Homo sapiens: one gene and its partners. The protein of the gene in region 1 purifies or fractionates together with the protein of each later gene. This does not show direct contact. Each region holds a gene or a part of one and is shown on either strand. Other genes may lie near its edges.

Evidence for each region.
Region 2: the proteins of MCCC1 (region 1) and CRYBB3 purify together in Homo sapiens (co-immunoprecipitation; one large-scale study listed by IntAct). This does not show direct contact.
Region 3: the proteins of MCCC1 (region 1) and ELSPBP1 purify together in Homo sapiens (co-immunoprecipitation; one large-scale study listed by IntAct). This does not show direct contact.
Region 4: the proteins of MCCC1 (region 1) and MIPEP fractionate together in Homo sapiens (co-fractionation; one large-scale study listed by BioGRID). This does not show direct contact.

Annotation. Positions count from the first base shown.
Region 1 is NC_000003.12:183,071,709-183,076,902, reverse strand, and holds part of MCCC1 (methylcrotonoyl-CoA carboxylase subunit alpha, mitochondrial isoform 1 precursor), read left to right. Parts: intron 1-4,415; coding exon 4,416-4,537; intron 4,538-5,194.
Region 2 is NC_000022.11:25,204,770-25,208,964, forward strand, and holds the end of CRYBB3 (beta-crystallin B3), read left to right. Parts: intron 1-450; coding exon 451-593; intron 594-2,277; coding exon 2,278-2,443; 3' UTR 2,444-2,590; downstream 2,591-4,195. UniProt on the Homo sapiens protein: Crystallins are the dominant structural components of the vertebrate eye lens.
Region 3 is NC_000019.10:48,014,543-48,019,736, forward strand, and holds part of ELSPBP1 (epididymal sperm-binding protein 1 precursor), read left to right. Parts: intron 1-1,350; coding exon 1,351-1,497; intron 1,498-5,176; coding exon 5,177-5,194.
Region 4 is NC_000013.11:23,881,796-23,886,989, forward strand, and holds part of MIPEP (mitochondrial intermediate peptidase), read right to left. Parts: intron 4,712-5,194; coding exon 4,538-4,711; intron 1-4,537. UniProt on the Homo sapiens protein: Cleaves proteins, imported into the mitochondrion, to their mature size.

The sequences.
Region 1 (5,194 bases):
GTTTATGGGGAGTGAGGAATGGCTAAGAGGCACAGGATTTCTTTTTGCAGTGTTAAAAACTTACATTATTAGATCTTAGTATTTTAGATTATAGTGATAATTGTGCGACTTTGAGTATACTAAAAATCATTGGGTTGGCCGAGTTTATGGTATATGAATTATATCTCAACAACTATGTTTAAAAAGTGCAGTAACACTATGCACCCACTAGATTGGCCAAAATCAGAAAGACTGATAGTACAACATGTGGGCAGGGATATGGATACACACTTTAAAGCATCATAAATTGCTGGTAGAAATGCAAAATAAAATCATCGCTTTAGAAAAGTTAAATGTATTCTTACCATATTAGGACCAAACAATTGCACTCCTGGGTATTTACCCAAGAGAAATGAAAAATATGTTCACACAGACTTGTCTGTGAATGTTTATAACACCGTTATTCATAATAACCACAAACTGGAAAATAATTCAAATGAATGGGTAAACAAAATGTGGTATATCCATATAACAGAATCCATATTATAAAAAGAAATGAGCTACTGACACACTCCATAACATGAATAAACCTTGAAAAATTATGTGAAGTTAAAGAAGCCAGACACATAATACTATGTACTGTATGATTCTGTTTATATGAATTTTTTTAAAGGCAAAACTATAGAGACAACAAGTCAGTTGTTGCTTGGGTATTGGGAACAGATTGCACATGGGCACATGGGAACTTTTTCAAGTGATGCAGGTGTTCTCAAACTGGATTGTAGTGATCCAATTGTAGTTGCACAATTGTATAGATTTACTAAATTCACCAAACTATAAATGCATGAATATTATGTATTATAAATCATATCTCAAAAGAAAACCCAAACCAGGGAGGACTAGGACATAGACCTGTTTCATTTGCCTAGTATAGATGTTTGACCATTTTATATAAAATACTCAAATTGTGGGAGAAAATATTTGCAAAGTTTGCATCTGACAAAAGTCTAATATCTAGCATCTATAAGGAACTTAAACAGATGTGCAAGAGAAAAACAACCCCATTAAAAAGTGGGCAAAGGACAGCCGGGCACAGTGGCTCACGTCTGTAATTCCAACACTTTGGGAGGCCGAGGCGGGCAGATCACACGGTCAGGAGATGAGACCATCCTGGCTAACATGGTGAAACCCTGTCTCTACTAAAAATACAAAAAGATTAGCAGGGCGTGGTGGCAGGCACCTGTAGTCCCAGCTACTTGGGAGGCTGAGGCAGGAGAATGGCGTGAACCTGGGAAGCAGAGGTTGCAATGAGATGAGATCATGCCACTGCACTCTAGCCTGGGTGACAGAGCAAGACTCTGTCTCAAAAAAAAAAAAAGTGGGCAAAGGACATGAACAGGCACTTCTCAAAAGAAGACATACATGTGACCAACAAACATGAAAAAAAGCTCAATATCACTGATCATTAGAGAAACGCAAATCAAAACCACAATGAGACACCATCTCACACCAGTCAGAATGGCTATTACTAAGAAGTCAAAAAAATAACAGATGTCAGGAGGTTGTGGAGAAAAGGGAACGCTTATACACTGTTGGTAGGAGTGTAAATTAGTTCAACCATTGTGGAAAGCAGCAGGGTGATTCCTCAAAGAGCTAAAAGCAAAACTGCCATTCAACCCAGCAATCCCATTACTGGTTGATACCCAGAGGAATATAAATTATTCTACCATAAAGACACATGTGCATGTATGTTCATTGCATCATTCACAATAGCAAAGTCATTGAATCAGCCTAAATGCCCATCAGTGACAGATTGGATGAAGAAAAGGTGGTACATATACACCACGGAATACTATGCAGCCATAATAAAGCATAAGATCACATCTTTTGCGGGAACATGGATGGAGCTGGAAGCTATTATCCTTAGCAAACTCCCACAGGAACAGAAAACCAAATACTGCATGTTCTCACTTAGAAGTGGGAGCTGAATGATAAGAACTTAAGAACACAAAGAAGGAAACAAAAGACACTGGGGTCTACCTGAGTGGGGAAGGTGGGAGGGAGAGGAGCAGAAAAGATAACTATTGAATACTGGGCTTAATACCTGGGTGACGAACTCTGTACAACAAACCCCTGTGACATGTATTCACCTGTGTAATCTTCACATGCACCCCAAACCTAAAATAAAAGTTAATAAAATAAAATTGAACTTTGGTTTAAAAGATATAAAACTCTAAACTGGCTGCAACATATGAGTATCCAGCATTTTATCTGTATCTGGCATTGCATTGTTTCCTGTCACTAGGATGTGGGTTTTTCTATTCGTATGAGTTTCCCAGATATGTGAAGCTTACCCCTTTAATTTTGAAATGTTCTTTGAGTGTAACTATTTTGAAACAGGATTGGCTGAACCTTTGTGTTTTTACATTGTTTTGGTCATAATTATAATACTCGCTCACATTTTAGAAGAACAAATCCCCTCAGGGCTACTGATGTTGGAGAGGGTGTGGCTTCATCACTCATTAAATCATCCAAGTCTTCTCTGCCTTTTGCCTCCTTCTGTTTCTTCCCTTTTTGCTGTCAGCGTGTTTACTTTTAGAAATCTTGCTGTCCTTCAGTTACTGAATTTCCTCTTCTGTGGGCTAAAATCCCAGTAAGTATGTTTGTTAAAATTCTGAGTACACTGGAAGTAACTAGGCTGAAGTCTGAGGGATGCCCTTTTCACTGAAAGTACACGTACAGTTGTCCCCTTTATCCACGGTTTTGCTTTGAGTGGTTTCAGTTACCTGCAGTCTACTATGGTGTGAAAATATTAAATGGAAAATTCCAGAAATCAACAATTGATAAGTTTCAAATTGCACGCCATTCTGAGTCACACAGTGAGATCTTGCACAGTCTGCTTTGTCCCTCCCAGGATGTGAATCGTCCCTTTGTCCAGTGTCTCCACGCTGTCTCCACTCCCCATCTGTTAGTCACTCAGGAGCCATCTAGGTTATCAAATTGACTGTCATGGTACCACCATGCTTGTGTTCAAGTCACCCTTATTTTATTTAAATCATGGCCCCAAAATGCAAGAGCAATGATGGTGGCAATTCACTTATGCTAAAGAGAAGCCATGAAATGCTTCTTTTAAGTGAAAAGGTGAAAATTCTCAAGGAAAGAAAAAAATATGTATGTTGAGGTTTCTTGGTTCTTGGTAAGGACCAAGTTTCTATCTGTGAAATTGTGAAGAAGGAAAAACAAATTCATGTCATTTTCCTGTTGCACCTCAAACTGCAAAACTTATGGCCACAGGGCATGGCAAGTACTTAGTTAAGATGGGAAAGGCATTACATTTGTGATTGGAAGACATGAACAGAAGCGTGGTCAAATTGGTATCAGTCCAGTTCTGTAGTATTCATAGTTTCAGGCATCCACTAGGGATCTTGGATAAGGGGACACTCCTGTAGACTTTAATACATGACTTTCATTTGCTTCTTAGCTTTTTTTCTGGAAAGATGACATTGATGACCTGAAGATAAGTGAGGTATTTATTGAGCTAGTGTTCTGTTTGGGGCTTTTGGATGCCATGATTTCAATTCTAGGCCAGTTTTACACAGAGACAGAATAGACAAATTCCCCTTACCACTCTGAAGCCCTTTACTTCTTGACATTCTACCCTAATTGCAATATTATTTTAAATTTAAGTATATAGAAACTTCTGTACCATATGATCCAGCAATTCCACTTTTGGTATACAGCTAGAAGAATTTAAAGCAGGGACTCAAAACAGATACTTGTATACCAATACTTGTTGTTCACAGCAGCAGTATTCACAATGTGTAGAAATAACACAATGTCCATCAAGAGATTAATGGATAAACAAAATGTGTACAAACTGGATATTATTCAACCTTAAAAACAAATGGAATTTTGATACATGTTACATGAATGAACCTTGAAAACATTATGCTAGGTGAAATAAGCCAAACTCAGACAAATTATTATACGCTTCCACTTACATGAGGTACTTTGGCTAGAGAAATTCATAAACAGAAAGTAAAATCCTGGTTACTAGGGACTAAGGAAAGGGAGGGAATGGAGAATTATGTTTGGAGATTAAAACATCCTGAGGATGGATGGTGATGACAGTTGCCCAACATTGTGAGTGTACTTAATGCCACTGAATTACATACTTGCAAGTAACTAAAATGGTCAGTGTTTTGCTATGTATATATTATCACAATAAAAAGAAATATAGATTCATCTGGTTTAGGTAAGCCTTCAGAGCTTTCATATGAATATTTCAGATATTTCTTTGGAAACAGAGTTTAATAGAGACCATACTATTACCAGTGTAGGGAGAGGCCTCCCAGAGGAAGACAGCTTCACCTGCATTAAGGTGTTGCCAGTTGAGCACTGATGAGTAAATTTTTTATTTTATTTCTCATTTCTAGGCTATCCATCCAGGATGCGGTTTTCTCTCAGAAAACATGGAATTTGCTGAACTTTGTAAGCAAGAAGGAATTATTTTTATAGGCCCTCCTCCATCTGCAATTAGAGACATGGGTATAAAGAGGTATGAGTTTATATCTTTTAAAATATAACTGTATGAAGGTCAGTTGAAATAGTTTGGGCCAGGCATGTGGCTATGCCTGTAATACCAGTGTTTTGGGAGACTGAGGCAGGAGGATAGCTTGAGGCCAGGAATTCAAGACCAGCCTGGGCAACTTAGTGAGACCTTGTCTCTCAAAATTCTTTTTTTTAAATCAGCCAGGCCTGGGCACAGTGGCTCACACCTGTAATCCCAGCACTTTGGGAGGCCAAGGTGGGAGGATCACTTGAGCCCAGAAGTTTAAGACCAGCCTGGGCAACACAGGGAGACCCTGTCTCTACAAAATTTTTTAAAAATTCCAGGCATGGTGGCACGTGCCTGTGGGTCCAGCATCTTGGGAGGCTGAGGTGGGAGGATTGCTTGAGCCCAGGAGATCAAGGCTGCAGTGAGCTGTGATCACACCATCATACTTCAGTCTGGGTGACAGAGTAAGACCCCATCTCAAAAAAAAAAAAAAAAATTCAGCTGGGTATGGTGACACACACCTGTAGTCCCAGCTGCTTAGGAGGCTGAGGCAGAAGGATCACTTGAGCTCAGAAGTTTAAGGCTGTAGTGAAGTATAATTGCACCACTGCACTCTGGCATGGGCAACATTGTGAGACCCTGTCTCTAAAAAAAAAA
Region 2 (4,195 bases), on another chromosome or scaffold:
CCGCAGCTGCTCCAGCCCTTTCTCTTTGTCACATAACTGAGTCCTCCTTAGAGGGCAGTGGAAGAGGGGAAACTGGGAAGATTAAACCGGCATCTGGTTAGGAAAGAGGGAAAGCTCATATGTTGATACTTTTGATCTCTGTCCACCCTCTCCTGGCCTCAGTTTCTCTATCATTTAAATGATGGGATTGAACAAGATCTGGAAATTCCTTTTCAGTTTTATAATCTACGGCTCTAGGTTCCTAAATCAACCAGCTTTGGAGGAATCTCCCCGTCCCTCCTACAGTGAATTTGGGGGTGGAGGCATCTCCTGAGGCCCTTCCCTCCTGCAGCAGGTTTGGGGGTGGGTGTTATTTTGTGGTGACCTGTTGATTCTTTCCGGCATCTGGAGCCTCCTTGACCTCTGTTCTGGATATGGGAGCAGCCGCTCACCCCACGATATTGCCCTCAGGATAGTCCACATCACAAGCTGCATCTGTTTGAGAACCCAGCTTTCAGTGGCCGCAAGATGGAGATAGTGGATGATGACGTGCCCAGCCTGTGGGCTCATGGCTTCCAGGACCGTGTGGCGAGTGTCCGTGCCATCAACGGGACGTAAGGGACCCAACCCTCACCCTTGCCCCATCTTCTGGTCAGCCATGCCTCTGGCTCCAAACAGAATCAGTGCCCATAGTTTCTTATTATTTTATTTATTTATTTATTTATTTTTGAGACGGAGTCTTGCTCTGTCGCCCAGGCTGGAGTGCAGTGGCGCGATCTCAGCTCACTGCAAGCTCCGCCTCCCGGGTTCATGCCATTCTCCTGCCTCAGCCTCCCGAGTAGCTGGGACTACAGGCGCCCACGACCACGCCCGGCTAAGTTTTTGTATTTTTAGTAGAGACGGGGTTTCACCGTGTTAGCCAGGATGGTCTCAATCTCCTGACCTCATGATCTGCCCGCCTCGGCCTCCCAAAGTGCTGGGATTACAGGTGTGAGCCACGGCGCCCGGCCATCGGTGCCTATAGTTTCTTGCATGATTCATGTTCCCTGCACTCCTGTACTGTTGAGATTTCTAGGCAGCCTTGACTTAAAACAAGTAAAATCTGTTCTCTCCACCTGTTCCCATCTGAGTCCTTCCTGCTTTTTTAAACATCCCCACACCCTTGAACTGATTCTTGAAATGTTCTTCCCCCTCACAACTCTTGTTCTTCTTAACAAGGGGCCCAGGATGTATGCAGTTATTGAGATGTGACACAAGTTGTACAGAGGAGAGCAGGCTTATCACCTCCCTCTTTCTAGGCTTAATATCACCGTTGATGCAGTCTTAGGATCACCTGCTTTTTGTAGGTGGTTACATCTCACTTGTGGGCTTGTAATCTGGGGTTGGGCCTTGAGAGGTGCCACCTATCCCTGATAATAATTTATTCAACAATTTTTTACTGAACATCTACTATATGCTGGTGTGCTGATACAGAGAACAACAAGAATGGCACATCCTCTGGCCCTCAAAAAATTTGCGTAGTCTGGGGCTCACGCCTGTAATCCCAGCACTTTGGGAGGCCGAAGTGGGCGGATCACCTGAGGTCAGGAGTTCATGACCAGCCTGACCACCACGGAGAAACCCCGTCTCTACTAAAAATACAAAATTAGCCGGGCATGGTGGCGCATGCCTGTAATCCCAGCTACTCAAGAGGCTGAGGCAGGAGAATCACTTGAACCTGGGAGGTGGAGGTTGTAGTGAGCCGAGATCACGCCACTGCACTCCAGCCTGAGCAACAAGAGCGAAACTCCATCTAAAAAAAGAAAAATTACATAGTTTGATGGAGAGACAGACAAAGTAACAGGTATTCACAACGTATTGTGATCAGGATTGGGACTGGGATGCACAAGGGGCTCTGGGAGTCCCAGTGAGGTACTCGATTCAGCCTGCAGGAGTCTGGAGACATCTAAATTGAGCTGTAATGGATGCAAGTGGAAAAAAGGGGGAAGGAGAGGGATGAGGTGAGCAAGAGTGTTCCAGGCAGAAGGAATCATGCATACAAAGGCCCCCCAACACAGCAGGTTCCGGGAAAGTAGAATAAGAGAGGCCACGGTGTTGAGTGTGAATGGGATGTTGAGAGATAAGGCTAGAGATGCTTTGTTAAGGGTCCTGTGAGCAGGGTAAAGAGTTTGGATTCATCCCAAGGGCTCTGGGGAGCTAAAGAGGAATGTAGGCAGGCAGAGTGCATGGTCAGATGCTGGCTGGAGGCAGGGTGACTGGAAGCAGACCGTCCACATCTCAACCTTGGTCTCCCGGCAGGTGGGTTGGCTATGAGTTCCCCGGCTACCGTGGGCGCCAGTACGTGTTTGAGCGGGGCGAGTACCGCCACTGGAATGAGTGGGACGCCAGCCAGCCGCAGCTGCAGTCTGTGCGCCGCATCCGTGACCAGAAGTGGCACAAGCGGGGCCGCTTCCCCAGCAGCTGAAAGGCACCCAGACTTCAAGGACCCAGACCCACCCTGGGGGGCTGCAAGGGCAAGAAGAGGAGGCTCCAGGGTTGGGGCGAGGGCCGACCTGTCCACCCTTCCCTGGAATCTGCTCAATAAAGCCTGGGGTTGGTCCCCCACCCGCCACGTTCCTCGGCATCACTTCCTGAGGGAGCCAGGCCTGGGGCGGGACCTGTGGGAGAGGCGTGCTGAAGGAGGCTGGGGCTTGAGTGTTCTGAGACTCCCAGGAAGGGGCTGGGAAATTTGCCCATATCCTAGGCTCTAATCCTTTCAGGCAGAGCCATGTGCCCCTACTGCCCTGATCTTGTGTTTGTCTGCTGCTGCATGTTTCCATCTGAATGTCTGTCAGTCTGCCCATCCACTCACCCATCCATCCATCATCCTTCCACCCACCCACCCACCCATTCATCCACCCATTCACCCACTCATGTGCCCATCCATTCGTCTACTCACCCATCCATCCATCCATCCACCCACCCATTCATCCACCCATTCACCCACCCATGTGCCCATCCATTCATCTACTCACCCATCCATCCATCCACCCACCCACCCATCTACCCATTCATTCATCCATCCAACTACCTACCACCCATTCATCCATCCATGCATCCATCCATCCATCCATTCATCCACCCACTTACCCATCCATCCATTCATTCTTCCTTCCATCTTCCTATATTTGTTCTTTCCATTAATTCATCCATTTTTCCTTCCACTCACGCATCTTTCTATCTATCCTTTTATCCACTTATCCATCAATTTTTCTTTCAATCTACTTGTCCATCAATGTGTCCATCTGATCTTCCTTCCTTCCTTCCTTTCTTCCCTCCTTCCTTCCATTCATCTATCCATTATTTCCCCTTCCACCTCTCTGTGGGTCAGTCTCTGTTGTCATTAATGTATTCAGCAAATGCCATGCCCTGTTCAGTGTATTCAGCAAATGCCATGCCCTGTTCAAGGCCTAAGGACAGGGCACAATGTCCTGCCCTCCAGGTTCTCACCTTCTGTGGGAGAGACAGAAAGTAAATAAACAGGTCGATGAGGGCTATAATGTTGGGAGGCGGTAAATACCAAGAACAATAAAGCTGGATAAAAATATGGAAGTGATGGGGGTGGTGGCCAGGAAACTCTGTGCAAAGGAGCCGAGTCCTCAGTGAACCACCAGAACATTCCAGGCAGAGAAATAACAGGTGCAAAGGCCCTAGGCAGGAGTATGCTGGCCTAATGGGAAACAGCCAGGGGCCCAGCAGGTCTGGAATGGAGTAAAAGACTGGGGATAGGGTTCAGAGGGAACAGGGTCAGGTCATTTAGGGCTTTGCAGAACCTAGTGGACTTTGCTTGTTCTCTGAGGGAGGTGGGAGCCATGGAGCATTTGAGCAAAGTGAGCCGTGGTCTGCAGTGGGGTTTAATAGGATCACTCTGGCTAGGGTGCAAATCATACACTTAGTGGCCAAGGAGGGATGCAGAGAGACCAGTTGGGAGGCTACTGCAGAGAGTCTCGTGAGCTGTGTTTGTGCGGTCCACCTGAGCCTCTCTCTCTCATGCCTCAGTATCTCTGTCCCCTTGCCCAGAGGCCTTCTGCAGCCTCGCCTGGGGTACTGAGTGCCCATCCCACCTCCCCCCACTGACCACTGCTCTGGGCCCCCGTGGCTTCATCTGGGCAGTGGGAGTTGCTGAAGAGCTGAACAGAGACACTGGGGCAGTGCCAGGCATAAATGAGGCCTTTGT
Region 3 (5,194 bases), on another chromosome or scaffold:
AGGGATAGCATTAGGAGATATACCTAATGCTAAAGACGAGTTAATGGGTGCAGCACACCAGCATGGCACATGTATACATATGTAACAAACCTGCACATTGTGCACATGTACCCTAAAACTTAAATTATAATAATAATAAAATTTAAAAAAATCAGTGATAATGTAATGGGTAATAAATGATATATAATTACTGTTTTTAATTTCCACAAATAAAAAAAAAAGAAAAAGAAAAGGCTCTGGGATGCCTGACAATGAATGCTAATAATGGGTAATAATGTTAATAATGCTAGTGTTAAAAATAGTGCTCTCTGGATGAGGGTCTTGTGATACTGTAAGACTAGTTGACCCAATAGAACCATCCCATCTTTATGCCTTTCTTAATTTTCTAAGTTAATAAGGAAAAAGGAAACGAAGTGTAAGAAACGGGATTTGAGGCTGGGCGAGGTGGCTCATGCCTGTAATCCCAGCAAAACTTAACTACTAATAGCCTGCTATTGACGAGACGGCTTACCAGTAACATAAACTGTCAATTAACACATATGTTTTATGTCTTATGTATTATATACCGTATCTCATAATAAAGGAAACTAGAGAAAAGAAAATGTTAATAAGAAAATGGTAAAAAGGAGGAAATATGTTTGCTATCCATTAAGTGGGAATGGATCAGCATAAAGGTCATTAGCATCATCTTCATGTTGAGGAGGAGGAGGAAGAGGAAGGGTTGGTCTCACCATCTTGGGATGACAGAGGCAGAAGCAATGGAGGAGGTGGAAGGGGAGGCAGGAGAGACAGACACATTCAACATAACTTTTTTTGAAAAACACCCATGCCCACTGGGCACAGTGGCTCATGCCTGTAATCCCAGCACTTTGGGAGGCCGAGGCGGGTGGATCACCTGAGGCCAGGAGTTCGAGACCAGCCTGGGCAACATGGCGACACCCCATCTCTACTAAAAATTAAAAAAAATTAGCTGGGTGTGGTGGCAGGCATCTGTAATCCCAGCTACTCGGGAGGCTGAGGCAGGAGAATTGCTTGAACCCAAGAGGCAGAGGTTGCAGTGAGCCAAGATCTCGCTATTGCACTCTAATCTGGGCAACAGAGTGAGACTCTGTCTCGAAAAAAAGAAAAGAAAAGAAAAGAAACTCACATATAAGTGGACCCGAGTTCAAACTTGTGTTGTTCAAGAATCAGATGTATATGGCATAGGCAAATGCTTGATGAAATAATGCATAAAGTCTCTTCTGAACCTTATGTCTGTCCTGTCCTATGATGGTTGATTGATGATTAAATGACTCTGTCCTGTGAACGACTAGAGGAAGTTAAGACACTCACGAACTCTGTTCCTAACAGATTACCCACGCTGTATCTTCCCTTTCATCTATCGAGGAAAGGCTTATAACAGCTGCATCTCCCAGGGCAGCTTCTTAGGCAGTCTGTGGTGCTCAGTCACCTCTGTCTTCGATGAGAAACAGCAGTGGAAATTCTGTGAAACGAATGGTGAGCCCCTGTAGCAGGGATGGGATGTGTGGTGGGAGGGAGAGTGGACAGCATGGATCCTCCTGAGGGGAGGCTGGGCAAGGTAGAGACCAGAGCACCCAGGGGGAAGTACTTACAGGAGCCAAGTGTCTGCTCAGAGAGTTCGCTATGACAACGACAGACAGGGGTATCCCGAGGCCATTCGCCCAGTCCCCAGTCCAGCATGAAAAGACAGGAGTCCTGAGAACTGAAACAATGAGCTGAAGTCCTGATATTGGCTTCTGAGTATTTCTGTTTCTAGAACTGACAATAGTGAGATTCACCCACTGATGGACCCAAACTGCCTTTTCTTTCCTTCCTTCCTTCCTTGCTTCCTTCCTTCCTTTCCTTTCTTTCCTTTCCTCCCTCCCTTCCTCCCTCCCTCCCTTTTCTCTTTCTTTTCTTTCCTTCTTTCTTTCTTTCTTTCTTTCTTTCTTTCTTTCTTTCTTTCTTTCTTTCTTTCTTTCTTTCTTCCTTCCTTCCTTCCTTCCTTCCTTCCTTCCTTCCTTCCTCCCTTCATCTCTCTCTTTCTTTCTTTTTCTCTTTCTTTCTTCTGTTTTTTACAGGGTCTTGCTCTGTCACTCAGGCTGGAGTGCAGTGGAATGATCTCAGGTCACTGCAACCTCTGCCTCCCAGGTTCAAAGGATTCTCCTGCCTCAGCCTCCTGAGTAGCTGGGATTGCAGGCGCCCACCACCACACCCAGCTAATTTTTGTATTTTTAGCAGGCACGGGGTTTCACCATGTTGGCCAGGCTGGTCTTGAACTCCTGGTCTCAGGTGATCCATCCGCCTCGGCCTCCCAAAATGCTAGGATTACAGGCATGAGGCACTGTGCCTGGCCCTGACCTGCATTTCAATGCAGCCTAACATCATATTAAGTCTACACATAATCTTAGGTGAATAATGACCAAAATTCATTGAATGTCCTCTCTGTCCTACACTGATCCAAGAGCTTTGTATACAATATCCTGTTGAATCTTTCCATAGCAGCTCTATGAGCTGCTGCTCGCCACCACCTGTTCAATAAATGGTCCCAGTATAACTGAGCCCTTCCCAAGGTCACAGTCCTACACTATATTAGAATTAGAGCTTGAGTTCTAGTCCATATAGTTCCAAAGCCCATGCTCTCTCCTTAAGCATTGTTGCGTCCACAGAGACAAAGATGTGTGAAGGCAGTTATTCGTAGGCATGCTTACTCTTGCGTAAAAATCTTAATTCTGTTGTTCCCTTAGCACTCAACAAATCCTAATTCCATCTAAACCTTAATTTTATTCTAGCCCTAATCATCCACCATTTGTGTTCTTTACTATAAACAAAACTTAACCTTAAATCTCACTATAGCTTTGTCCTAGTAGTTAACCTAATCTTTCATCCCAAGTCCAACTCTTTCTCCATTTCCATTCCTAACTCTAAATTGTATCATTAATACATACATTCCATCATTAATAAATACATTAATAATATACTCTGTCATTAATACATCATTAATTCATAACCTTAGCCATTTCTTAACCCTAAACCAAATAGATGAATTAGGAAAGGTATCAGTGAGACCAGGCTCAGTGGCTCATGCCTGTAATCCCAAAAGGGATTGGGAGGCTGAGGCAGGAGAATTGCCTGAGGCCAGGAATTTGAGACCAGCCTAGGCAACATAGGAAGACCCGCTCTGTAAAAACAAGAATTAAAAAATTAACTGATCATGGTGGTGCGTGCCTGTAGTCCCAGCTACTTGGGGAGGCTGAGGTGGGAGGATTCCTTGAGCCCAGGAGTTTGAGGCTGCAGTGAGCTATGATCACATCATGGCATTCCAGCCTGGGCAACAGAGTGAGATCTTGTCTCAAAAAAAAAAAAAAAAAAAAAAAAGGAGGAAAAGAAACATCACTTTTGTGGTAATATAACCTTAATATCTAAGCTCCTGTTTATCCTTAAAACTATCCAATCTCCTTAGACCCAGTTTTGATGGAGTAACAGATTCAAATTTGCATAAATCACCAAACGGATGTCCAAGAAGAGATACCTTTTAGCTTTGGCTTCCCCATTAGGTTAAGAAAGTTGTTGATTATTTCCTTTCTATGGATAAGTGAGAACCAAGACCACCCATGGCTGCATGCTACTGTCTCCATGAACATAGCTTTACCGCTTCACAGTCATCATCAACTTGACTCTACTAACCCAGGAAATTCGTGCCTGGGAAGTCACTTTTATTATCTGCAAAATGAGAATGCTAAGGCTGGCATCACAGGGTTTTTGTAAAGACTGGAGTTTATTTTCATGCAGGATTGATGGTGATGCCATACCAGGTACCCAAGAAATGTGAGCTTTCTTCTGCTATCATCTGAGACACTAGGCAAAAAAATGGGCTTTGAAGTTAGACCCGAGTTGGAATTCTGTTGTTTCCCTTACCATCTATGTGATCTTGGACACATTAGATCATAGAAGTAATAATTATCATAACATAATGAACTTTTAATAAGCATTTTCTATGTGCCAGGCAGTATTTTAAGTGCTTCACATGAAATAACTCATCTATTCCATACAATAATCTCTATCAGGTAAATGTGATTATTAGCCCAGTTTTACACATGGACAAACTGAGGTTAATAGAAGCAAAGCTGTGATTTTGATCCCAGGAAGTCTAACCTTCAGAATTTGTGCTCTTAATCACCAGTCATTACTGCCTGAAAACCCCAACCCCTTAGTCAAATTCTAGCTCCCCATGAAAGACCACCAAAGGAAATTAAAAAAAAAAGCCTGCTAATTAGGCAAGACTGAGTTTATTGCTCACTTCCTTGACAGCATCTTAATAACGTCTTGGGCTGGGCGTGGTGGCTCATGCCTGTAATCCCAGCACTGTGGGAGGCCGAGGCAGGTGAATCACCTGAGGTCAGGAGTTCAAGACCTGCCTGGCCAACATGGTGAAACCCCTTCTCTAATAAAAATAGAAAAATTAGCGACGCATGGTGGTGCATGCCTGTAATCTCAGCTACTCGGGAGGCTGAGGCAGAAGAATCTCTTGAACCCGGGAAGTGGAGGTTGCAGTGAGCCGAGATCGTACCACTGCACTCCAGCCTGGTTGACAGAGAAAGACTCCATCTAAAAAAATAAAAAATAACGTCTCGAAGTGGGGAGGGAAAACTCAGCATATTGATGGGGTCTTGGAGTCTCGTCTAAGGTGGGTCTTTCAATGGGGGATGTGATTTGGATTGTGTAAGGATCATGATATAATAGTTAGGATTGGTGTTCACAGCAAGGTGAAATGACCAAAGATGGGGTTTTAAAGAGTCTAGGAGAGTAAATAGTGTTTTGACACAATCGATATTTATGTAACTAGCTTTTCTGGAGGCTTCTGGAATGAATAATAGGGCTATTCGCAACTCTTATCTTCCTGGGCAAGAATTTCCTAGCTTAGTAGAGTCAAGGTGATGGCGACCGCAGAACCGTGAAGTCGTGTTAATAGAGACAGTAAGCTGTGCACGAGTTGATAGTTTTGGTTCTCACTTATCCGTAACATTGGGATAATAACGTCATCCGGAAGTTGCTTGGAGAATCCAATGTGACGTTGCCTTTAATGGGATAAAGCGTGGCACAGTTTGTGTGTCATAAATGGAAGCTCTTTTCATCTCCTCTTCTTGACCCGTAACCTTTCCATAATCCTTTTCAGAGTATGGGGGAAATTCTC
Region 4 (5,194 bases), on another chromosome or scaffold:
GGGGAAAGACAAAACCAAAAGGGAATTTGATGAGAAGCTTTCTTCCAGGATCTGAGGGTGAAAATGAAAACTGGGTTTTAAGATGTGCCATTGGCTTGCCCTATGCATTTCCATTACTGACTTTTTCCTAAGCGAGTAAAGCAAAGCAGCTTCTTTCTGAACATTTAATTCTGTTATTCCTTGAAACCAAGTTTGTTTCACTCCAAAAAAAGACTTTTATTATTTCAGAAAAGTTTTTCTCTTTCAAATATAAACACCAAGCAAATTCTTTCTTTCTTTTTTTTTTTTTTTTGAGACGGAGTCTTGCTCCGTCGCCCAGGCTGGAGTGCATTGGCGCAATCTCAGGTCACTGCAAGCTCCGCCTCTCGGGTTCACGCCATTCTCCTGTCTCAGCCTCCCACGTAGCTGTGACTACAGGTGCCCACCACCACGCCCTCTAATTCTTTATTTCAAAAGAGCAGACACTGGTTTCAAATATTCTACAACTTTCTGGCTAAAATTCTTTGCAGTATGGTTTTCACATGTTAACTTATCTCCAGAAAACAACTCTTAAAGGCTTTTTTTTTTAACTGACACATAGTATAGTTTCAAAACCCATTTAACTACATTCTAGTCTTTGATTTAACTACATGGTAGTCTTTGTGCAGAAAACAAAGGCACGGTCTCTTCATAGTCCTTTCAATAAAATATGAGTTCGTAGTCTCCATGTAATACTGTATACAGCTACTACTGCTGCTGCTACTTAAGTCATTAGACATTAAAATGAGTGACAGTTCTTTTTTAAAAAGATAAAATGATGTAAAACTAAATTTTTGTTTTCATGTCAACTGTAACAAAAAGCAGAGAAACTACAAAACACTACATATTTTATTTGCCAAGAAAATGTGACTATAACATGAAATAAAATCACCACAAGATAAAATTTCTTAATTTTATTATCAAATAGTTTTTAATGCCAAAACATTTAAATCCATAGTTTGGTATATTTGTTGTAACAATTGGTAACGATAAAATAACATTAGTACCAAAGTACCTGAAAAATGAGTTATGTAAATTTACAACATTTTTTTTTTACAAATTACTAATCTACGGGTTGTGAATTTATAATCAATATTAAAATTCAAAACACTAGCATACATATTAAAAACTGATTTGTAATAGTGATGAGGAAAACAGTTGTTACATAAAAACTGTATTAAAAAAGAAAACAAAATAAAATGACTATTTGGTGAAAAACAGTTTATAAAACGATTGCCTTATAACAGTACTAATCTCACTGGCAGGTAATATCTTAAAAATTCAGATATTTTTAAGATATTAAAAATTCAGATAATCTTACTGGCAGGTAATATCTTAAAAATTCAGAACAGAGAAAGGTTCTTTTATACCCAGAGAACTACATATACAAATCACATCTTTTTTTTTTAAGTTTTCAAAATGAGATATTATTATACATGATAAATACTAAAAATGTCAAAATAAGATATAGCGCAGAGAAGTTAAAATCTTTTAGTGAAGATCAAAAGCAAAAATGTAGAAAAAAATCCTAGAATACTGATTAAGATGAAGACTAAGACAACAAATACACAGTGAATTCTGGGATTTGTGACAGCCACGCCAAGTCACCCCTCAGTATCAATGGACAATGGTTTGATCCTCCCACAGATACCCGAATCCACAGATGCTCAAGTCTCTGATATAAAATGGTGTAGTACTTGCATATAACCGACACACAGCACACCCCATACATCAAATCATATCTAGATTACTTGTAATACCTAATGAATGTAAACAATATGTAAATAGCTGATACACTGTATTGTTTTATGGAACAGTGACAAGAAAAGAAAGTCTGTACATGTTCAGTATGAATGCAAATTTTTTTTCCAAATATTTTTGATCCAAGGTTGGTTGACTCCACAGATCCCCCAATCTGGAGGGTTGACGATACAGTGAAATTCACTGACACAGATTTTCCTTTTCTGATTTCTGTGACACAATTAGGTGAACAGGGTATGAAACCTCCTTTTGGCAGTGCGTTTCCACAGCTTCCCCATCATTCAAAGACACATTTCCTATGCACATACTGGAGGCACAGAACAAAAACCCAGTACAACAGAACTACTCAGAGCCTGCAACTTCACTCCAGGGAAAAACCCTTTACAGTAAGATACTTTATCAGTTTTCTTAAGAGCGGGAGGCTTGTGGTGAACATATAATCATCTGAAAGGTGTTAATGCTCAAATCAGTTGTATGGGTGGAAGGAAATTTTCCAAAAAAGGAAAAAAAATAAAGATGGGGATGAGTTATGCTGGGTGAAAGAAGTCAGTCAAAGGTATACAGGATTCCACCTATGTGACATTCTAGAAAAGGCAAAACTATAGGGAGAGAGAACAGATTAGTGGTTGCCAGAGGTTAGTGGGGAGGGGGGGGTGTGACTACAGGGAGATTTTTGGGGGTGGATGGAACAGCTTTGTATCCTGATTGTGGTGAGGGCTGCACAAATTTATACGAGTTAAAATTCATAGAACTGTACCATCCTCCAAAAGAAGTCAATTTTACAGAATAATAATTTTAAAAACAAGTATACATTTTTTTTAAAGATGGAGAGGCTAACAAACTTTGCAACCTTTCCAGGTAAGGATTCATGAGACCTGAGCAGCCAGCCAGCCCTGAAATGGTTGGAACAGGAGAAAGAAGAAGAGCTCGACAGATACCCTGCCTGGGCTGGCAGCCCAGCTGCACCACACGCTGGCCAGCTGACAGCGGGCACATCCCTTCATCACCCAGTGCCTTTCTTCCCTCTTGTGAAAATGGAGATATGCTGAGAAGGTTACCTCAGCTCATCCAGGGAAAGCTTCTTCAGCTAACTAGGCTGTAGAAAGGGCCTACAGTCTAGTTAAATTTCCAAAAACAAGTTAATGCCAGAATATAAACTCCATGAAGTAACAGATTGTGTCTGTTTCATTCCTGCATGTATCCCTCATGCCTAGACAGTGTCTGGCACACAGTACGTGCTCAACATTGACTGAATGTGAGGGAAAAACCTATGCAGTTCTATACCATGTAGACAGGATCATAAATGATCACTATTTAAATTGTGTGTGCTGCTTTCCTTGACAAGAGTAACCAAGAGTCAGCTCCTTCAAGCTGATAGGAAACCCTGCTTCCTGGAAATGAGTATATCGAAGAGATATCTGCACTTCCATGTTTGCTGCAGCTCTGTTCACAACATCCAAGATGAGAAAGCAACCCAACTGTCCATGAACAGATGAATGGATAAAGAAAGTATGGTACTTACACACAATGGAATGCTATTCAGCCATAAAAAAGAATGAGATTATGTCATTTTCAACAACATGGATGGTCATTATGTTTAGTGAAATAAGTCAGGCACAGAAAGACAAACATCACATGTTCTCACTCACTTGTGGGACCTAAAAATAGATACAACTGAATCATGGAAATAAAGAGTAGAAGGATGGTTACCAGAGGCTAGGTAGGGTAGCAGGGTGGCATGGGGGAGGTGGGGATGGTTAATGGCTACAAAAAAACAGGAAGATTGAGTAAGACCTACTATTCGATAGCACAACAGGGTGACTACAGTCAATAATAATTTAATTGTAGATTTTAAAATAACCAGAAGAGTATAATTGGATTGTTTGTAACAGAAAGGATAAATGCTTGAGGGGATGGATACCCCATTTTCCCTGATGTAATTACTATGCATTGCATGCCTCTATCAAAACATCTCATGTACCTCATGAATATATACATGTACCCACAAAAATTAAAAATAAAAAAAAAAGAAAATTTTGCTATCTCAGCAATGGATTTCCTAGTTGCTGAAGAGATCTAGGTATACACTTCTATTTCAAATTTAAAATGTTAAAAAAAAAAAGTCTTTACAATCATTTTGATGTCAAAACTTGGTTTTTAATTAAAAAAAAAAAAGCATTCCTGAAAAGGTTTATTAAAACTGGTTTTCACACCTCTTATGAAAAAGAAGTGGCTCACACTTATAATCCCAGCACTTTGGGAGGCCGAGGCAGGAGGTTCACTTGGGGCTAGGAGTTCAAGATCAGCCCGGGCAACACAGGGAGACCCTGTCTCTATTAAAAAAAAAAAAAAAAGAAAAAGGGGAATTTTGTTGTAAATGTACACATAAAGTGTTCTTAGAATTTTGGGAGACACTTTCATAAATGAAGAATCTCTGTCAAATGAATATATATGTAAATATATATTACCCAAATATAGCAAATATTTGCTATATTAGTATTCATTCATTATATATTACATGTATATTTTATTAAACATACGTATTAAAGTACAAGTTCTAAATATCACCTTTTCCTATAATATTTTCCCATTCCTAATGACATATTTCATCATAAAAAATTATACCCAATGGATCTCAGTTTCAGACATTTTTAACTTTATAATCTAATATTAATAGTAAACAACAAAGGATAAATTTCACTTAAATTTTAACAAGTTGAAAGAGAGGTAGCTTCAAGTCTGAGGTAAAGCACCTTACCAAGTCGGCCACTCTGCATAAGGAATCCGAGAGCTCATCGAAGATCAGCACGGTCTGGGGCCCAGGTGGGGTGGAACATGCACGGTCCACAAGCAATTCTGTCTTTCTCAAGGCTTTTTCTTGTGCAATATGAAATCCTTCTGGGGCACTCAGCTCAGGAACTCCAAAAAGACCCTTAGAACCAAAGAATACGTCTGATTTATAACCAAAATTCAAAATTGTGCTTTTTTTATATTTACTAAAATTACTTTTATCACAAAGGAGATCTTGACTTTCATTGGTGTATCATGTTATACCTGTGATCACAGATACCACTATCATACTCCCCATATCACTCCACATAAATTACACTAAAAATGTTTTCAGAACATAATTTTTCTTCAATTTTTAATTATTTTCCGGAAAAAACAACAACAACAATGGTATGGGTTCAAAATCCAGCTGTCACTTCTACAGAACCTAAGAGTGGCCGCAAAGATTAAATGAGATCATATATGTAAATATATATATATATATACATAAAGCAGTGTTTGGCACAGAGCATTTATAGATGTTAGCCATAATTATTATTAGCTTATAACCCTGGTCATGTTATTTCTCCTCCTAGGAGAAATATTTTTTTCATCATGTACAATGGGAATGACGATACATACCTTA